Homo sapiens: one gene and its partner. The protein of the gene in region 1 interacts with the protein of each later gene in a biochemical or structural test. Each region holds a gene or a part of one and is shown in the gene's direction. Other genes may lie near its edges.

Region 1 (3,500 bases):
ATGGTGTTTCACCATATTGACCAGGCTGGTCTCAAACTCCTGACCTTGTGATCTGCCTGCCTCAGCCTCCCAAAGTGCTGGGATTACAGGTGTGAGCCACCGTTCCCGGCCTACCCAAAATAATTTTAAGCAGGGAGTTAAACAGATAGTTATACTCCAGTGCTCATTGCAGCATTATTTACAGTAGTCAAAAGGTGAAAACATGGCACGTGCCTGTAATCCCAGCACTGGGGGGCCGAGGCGGGCGGATCACCTGAGGTCAGGAGTTTGAGACCAGCCTGACTAATATGGTAAAACCCCATCTCTACTAAATTAAAAAAAAAAAATTAGCTGGGTGTGGTGGTGTGCGCCTGTAATCCCAGCTACTCGGGAGGCTGAGGCAGGAGAATCTTTTGAACCCAGGAGGTGGAGGTTTCAGTGAGCGGAGATCACGCCATTGCACTCCAGCCTGGGCAACAAGAGCGAAACTGTCTCAAAAAAAAAAAAAAAAAAAAAGGTGGGCCAGGCCCTGTGGCTCATGCCTGTAATCCCAGCACTTTGGGAGGCCGAGGTGGGCGGATCACGAGGTCAGGAGATTGAGACCATCCTGGCTAACACAGTGAAATTCCGTCTCTACTAAAAATACAAAATATAAGCCGGGCGTGGTGGCGGGTGCCTGTAGTCCCAGCTACTCGGGAGGCTGAGGCAGGAGAATGGCGTGAACCCAGGAGGCAGAGCTTGCAGTGAGCCGAGATTGTGCCACTGCACTCCAGCCTGGGCGAGAGAGTGAGACTCCGTCTCAAAAAAAAAAAAAAAAAAAAAAAAAAAGGTGAAAACAAACCAGGTATCCAGGTATACATCCATAAATGAATGGATAAACAAAATATGGTATATATATACATAAGACCGAGTGTTGCTCTGTCTCCCAGGCTGGAGTGCAGTGGCACGATCCTGCTCACTGCAACCTCCACCTCCTGGGTTCAAGCAGTTCACTTGCCTCAGCCTCCCGAGTAGCTGGGATTACAGGCGTGTGCCACCATGCCTGGCTAGTTTTTGTATTTTTAGTAGAGACGGGGTTTCACCATGTTAGCCAGGCTGGTCTCAAACTCCCAACCTCAGGTGATCCACCCGTCCCGCCTCGACTTCCCAAAGTGATGGGATTACAGGCATGAGCCACCATACCTGACCATCCTTAAGAAGGAATGAAATTCTTATTCATGTTACAGCATTGAAAATATTATCCTAAATGAAATGAGCCAGATACAAAAGGACAAATAATGTATGATTCCACTTACAGAAGGTAACCAGAGTAGCTAAATTCATAGGGACAGAAAGTAGAAGAGAGCTAACCGAGGGCTTGGGGGAAGGTGTAATAGGGTGTTATTGTTTAATAGGTACAGAGTTTCAGTTTGGGATAATGAAAAAGTTCTGAAGTTGGATAATGGTGATGGTTGCACAATGTATGTACTTAATGACACTGAATTGTACACTTAAAATGGTGAAGTGGCACATTTTATGTACATCTTACCACAATTTAAAAAGGAAGAAAAAATGAATTGTATACCCAATGACATTAGAATAAGTCTACACTACTTAAATTAGAAATAGGATATGTTTCAACTCCAGAGCCAATAAAAAAAAGAACAAGAAGTATCATATGTAATAACTGTATATAGCAAGGAAGCTTTGCTTAGTGAGGTCCTTGTGACTAACCACCAATTCAGTTTATAAAATTGTATCCTATTGGAAAGAGTCAAAAAACTTACTAGCTGTTATTTTAATAACAGCTTTAATATCAAACAGGACATAACTTCAAAGTATAAAGTATTATAATGCGTATTTAATGTTGAGAGATGCCTGAAGAGTATAAACTTATTAATAAATTACTGTAGCTGCATACAAACAATAAATCGACATTCAGAATTGTTTCACTTCTGTAATTACCATAAAGCATTTATACTTGCCGGTCTCTCAGCATTTTTTTTTTTTTTTTTTAGGTAACAGCTTTATAGAGATATGCTTCACATACAAGTCAACTATTTAGAATGTATAATTGGTTTTTCATATCTGTGTGCAGCCGTCACCATAATAATTTTTTTTTTTTTTTTAGACGGAATTTTGCTCTTGTTGTCCAGGCTGGAATGCAATGATGTGATCTTGGCTCACTGCAACCTCTGCCTCCCGGGTTGAAGCAATTCTCCTGCCCCAGCCTCCCGAGTAGCCAGGATTACAGGCGCGTGTCACCACGCCCGGCTAATGTTTGTGTTTTTAGTAGAGATGGGGTTTCATCATGTTGGCCAGGCTGGTCTTGAACTCCTGACCTCAGGTGATCTGTCTGCCTCGGCCTCCCAAAGTGTTGGGATTACAGGCATGAGCCACTGCACCTGACCAACCATAACAATTTTTTTTTTTGAGACGGAGTCTTGCTCTGTCGCCCAGGCTGGAGTGCAGTGGCGCGATCTCGGCTGACTGCAAGCTCCACCTCCCAGGTTCGTGCCATTCTTCTGCCTCAGCCTCCCGAGTAGCTGGGACTACAGGCGCCCACCACCATGCCTAGCTAATTTTTTGTATTTTTTTTTTTAGTAGAGACAGGGTTTCACCGTGTTAGCCGGGATGGTCTCGATCTCCTGACCTCGTGATCCGCCTGCCTCGGCCTCCCAAAGTGCTGAGATTACAGGCATGAGCCATCGCGCCTGGCGCCATAACAATTTTTAGAACATTTTTCCTCACTCCAAAAAAAGTCCCATATACTGTTTTGTTTTTCTTTTCTTTTTTCTTTTTTTTTTTTAAAGATGGAGTCTCTCTCTGTTGCTCAGGCTGGAGTGCAGTGGTGAGATCTCAGCTCACTACAATCTCTCCCTCCTGGGTTCAAGCAATTCTTGTGCCTCAGTCTCCTAAGTAGCTGGGATTACCGGCATGTGCCACCATGCCCAGCTAATTTTTGTATTTTTAGTAGAGATGGGGTTTCACCATGATGGCCAGGCTGGTCTCGAACTCCCAACCTCAGGTGATCTGTCCACCACGGCCTCCCAAAGTGCTGGGATTACAGGTGTGAGCCACTGCGCCCGGTCACCATACACTTTAGTCATCACCTCACCAACACCCTCATTCCCCTCATCCCTAGGCATCCTCTAATCTACTTTTGTCTCTACCATTTGCCTATCCTGCATATTTCATATAAATGGAATCATATAATATGTGTTGTTGTTGTTTTTTTTTGAGCGGAGTCTTGCTCTGTCGCCCAGGCTGGAGTGCAGTGGCGTGATCTCAGCTCACTGCAAGCTCCGCCTCCTGGGTTCACGCCATTCTCCTGCCTCAGCCTCCCGAGTAGCTGGGACTACAGGCGCCCGCCACCACACCCGGCTAATTTTTTGTATTTTTAGTGGAGATGGGGTTTCCCTGTGTTAGCCAGGATGGTCTCGATCTCCTGACCTTGTGATCCGCCTGCCTCAGCCTCCCAAAGTGCTGGGATTCCAGGCGTTAGCCACCGTGCCCAGCCAATATGTGGTCTTTTGCCGCTG
Region 2 (3,500 bases), on another chromosome or scaffold:
CTAAAATGTTGTCATTCATTCATTCATTCATTCAACATATGTGCATTCTGTGTGCAGATCACTATGCTATGTGCTACGAGTACCCTGGTAAGACAACCATTTTCTGTGTGATTTATACTGTCATAGTACTTACAAACTAGTGGGAAAAACAAATTGATCAGATAATCACAATAGTATTTATTTATAAATTGAGATCAATGCTTAAAGAGAAAGCAGGGCTTACAATAAAATATTCTGACTTACATGTGGATCTGGAATCTTGAAAAAGTGAAACTTAAGCTGAAATCTGAGTGATAAGGAAGAGTCAACTAGTTAAGGGGTATAGGTTGGAAGCTTTCCAGGCAGGGCAAGCAGCATGTGCCAAGGCCTTGAGGAAGGAGGGAACATGGTATTTTCAGAAAGTGAAAGCAGGATACTGTGGCCGCGTGTGGCCAGTGAGGGGAGAATAGCATAAGAAAGGCCTCTTTGGGCCTGGCCTTGAAAGGGTTTTGGTTGTGTTTTAAAAATACTTATCTATGACATCGTTGATTTCTGTCTTCAGTCATATACTTGGAAGATCTTCAAATATTAAAGCAATATATCTTTGCATTGAAGTGTGTCATTTTTTGTTTTTATTATTTTTAATTGACACATGACTGCACATATTTATAGGGTACAGTGTAATATTTTGATACATGCACACAATGCAATGATCAAATCAGGGAAATTAACATACCTGTCACTTCAAACATTTATTGTGTCTTCATGTTGGGAACATTCAAAATCCACTCTTCTAGCTATTTGAAAATGTAGAATAAATTGCTTTTAATTACAGTCATCTGACCCTGCTATAGAAACCAGAACTTATTCCTCCTATCTAGCTGTAATTTTGTATCCATTAACCAGCCTCTAGCTATTCCCACCCGCTACCTTTCCCAACCTCTAGTAACTACTATTCTGCTTTTGGCTTCTCTGAGTTCAACTTTTTTAGCTTCCACATATGAGTGAGAACATGTGGTATTTGTCTTTCTGTGCCTTGCTTATTTCACTTAACATAATGTCCTTCAAGCTCATACATGTTGTCACAAATGACAGGATTTCCTTCTTTTTGAAGGCAAAATAGTATTCCATTGTGGATATATGCCACATTTTCTTTATCCATTCACCTGCTGATGGACACTGAGGTTGATTCCATATCTTGGCTATCATGAATAGTGCTGTAATAAACATGGGAGTTCAGATATCTCTTTGACATGCTGATTTCCTTTTCTTTGGATATATACCTATTAGTGGGATTGGTAGTTCAATTTTTAGCCTTTTTGAGGAAAAGTTTGGATTTTTAACTTAACAACAACAGGATGCTTCTAAAGGACTTTAAACAAAGAAGTAACAGATTTGCAATTTGTGTAGGTTATTCTGGTGGCAGTGTGGAAAACGAATTGGAGGTGGGGGCATGCCAGTTTAAAGTAATATCTAATGGGCAGAATACAGACTTTGGGGACAGCCTCTATCCAGGGCCGGTGTCATCTTTTGGTCCAAGCTACTCTTATGTAAGAAAGGGACAATAGTACAGACGGCAGAAGAAAATTTTAAGGATTAAATGAAAAAGTAATTGTAGTAATCAACCATCATCATTTATAGATGAGGACTCTGAGGCTTAGAAAAGTTAAATAAGGCTTTTTGTCTGTTTATCTAGATGTTATGGAATGAGAGTGAGTGGAGTAGGAGATAAAGGCAGGGTGAAGGTCTGAAGGGAGAGAACATTCCAAAAACAAAAACAAACAAATGAGCAGTAAAACCAGATATAAGATCCTGGAGAAGCCAGATCTGGGAAAACCTGGTTGAAAGGATCACAGGGTCCAGCAGCCACATGGAATCCAGCTTCAATTGGCTCACCACAGTTCTTCCTCCAGAAAAAAAGGAGATCTGGGGATGTAACAACCCTTCACTTTTCAGTTTTCTTTTTTCATTTCCTAAGGGGGCTAGGTTAGATCAGTCTGTTATTTAGCCAGTAGGCAAAATAGGATAGTTCCCAGGGCTCTTCTACCCCAAACAAATCATCAGTGAAAATCTTCCCATTTGTTGTATGAAATCAGAAACTGCATTAGTAATGGGACAAAAGCCTTAATTACAGAATTAAAGATTTAACAAATTAAAAATAGTTAATCGTAATGCTGTTTTTTTAGTGTGAGGGAGTTTTAAATCAAATCAGCCTATCCAGAATTATGAATAGTAAGAAAGATGGGCACTTAACAGCTCGCAAACACCAGTGGGAGCAGGACTTGGGGAGAAAAACATGCAGAGGGAGGAGCTGATGCTATCTCTAATGATAAAGTTTGGACATTCATTAATTTTCTCCTTCAAAAGGGTGGGGCCAAACAGAAACTGGTCTTGAACTATTATGTATTTGCAAATTCAGTAGTTTACCTTCCTTTGATTCATCAATATATGTTTAACACAACTGGCTTATTATAATTAATTATTCTACTTAAAAATATTTATTGAGCATCTACCATGAGTTAGCCACTGTGGTAGGTACTGGAATGATAGCAAAAAGCAAAACAGACATTCGTGGAGATTTTACTTTTACATTATTTTGATCCCAGAAATTGTATTACTTAAGGCTTTGTTTATGAAATTCTTATTAAATGAATAATATATTATTTTTAAGTTGAAAATTAAGTCAAGAATGGATTTTTTTGGCTTGCTCTTGACATTTCTGTTAAGGCTGTATACTCCAGATTAGTGAAAAATCTTCAGGTGTTTAAGAACAAGATACTATATAAAGCAATGTGGTAATTGATTAATATCCCTTTGTGTATGTCAAACCACAAGCAATAGGGACCAATACATTTGACCTTTATAGTGCCCTGTACTGCAATTTCATTTACATAGCAGCTGATGTTGTAATTGATGTTGCATTTACTGAAACCATTGCCATTGTCTGTTTCAGGGCCGGCTTGATTCTCTAACAGAAGTGGATGACTCAGGACAATTAACCATCAAATGTTCTCAAAATTACTTGTCTCTGGATTGTGGCATTACTGCATTCGAACTGTCTGACTACAGTCCAAGTGAGGATTTGCTCAGTGGGCTAGGTGACATGACCTCTAGCCAAGTCAAAACCAAACCCTTTGACTCTTGGAGCTACAGTGAGATGGAAAAGGAGTTTCCTGAGCTTATCCGAAGTGTTGGTTTACTTACGGTAGCTGCTGACTCTATCTCTACCAATGGCAGTGAAGCAGTTACTGAGGAGGTATCTCAAGTATCTCTCTCAGTAGACGACAAAGGTGGATGTGAGGAAGACAATGCTTCTGCAGTCGAAGAGCAACCAGGCTTAACACTGGGGGTGTCATCATCTTCAGGAGAAGCTCTGACAAATGCTGCTCAACCCTCCTCTGAGACTGTGCAGCAAGAATCCAGTTCCTCCTCCCATCATGATGCAAAGAATCAGCAGCCTGTTCCTTGTGAAAATGCAACCCCCAAACGAACCATCAGAGATTGCTTTAATTATAACGAGG

What was found. Proteins that work in one complex are often made in the same cells at the same time.
Region 2: the proteins of PRKAR2A (region 1) and AKAP6 interact in a test that uses a peptide from one of them, tested with the Homo sapiens proteins (one study listed by BioGRID).

Annotation. Positions count from the first base shown.
Region 1 is NC_000003.12:48,837,875-48,841,374, reverse strand, and holds part of PRKAR2A (cAMP-dependent protein kinase type II-alpha regulatory subunit), read left to right. Parts: intron 1-3,500. UniProt on the Homo sapiens protein: Regulatory subunit of the cAMP-dependent protein kinases involved in cAMP signaling in cells. Type II regulatory chains mediate membrane association by binding to anchoring proteins, including the MAP2 kinase.
Region 2 is NC_000014.9:32,542,298-32,545,797, forward strand, and holds part of AKAP6 (A-kinase anchor protein 6), read left to right. Parts: intron 1-2,932; coding exon 2,933-3,500. UniProt on the Homo sapiens protein: Binds to type II regulatory subunits of protein kinase A and anchors/targets them to the nuclear membrane or sarcoplasmic reticulum. May act as an adapter for assembling multiprotein complexes.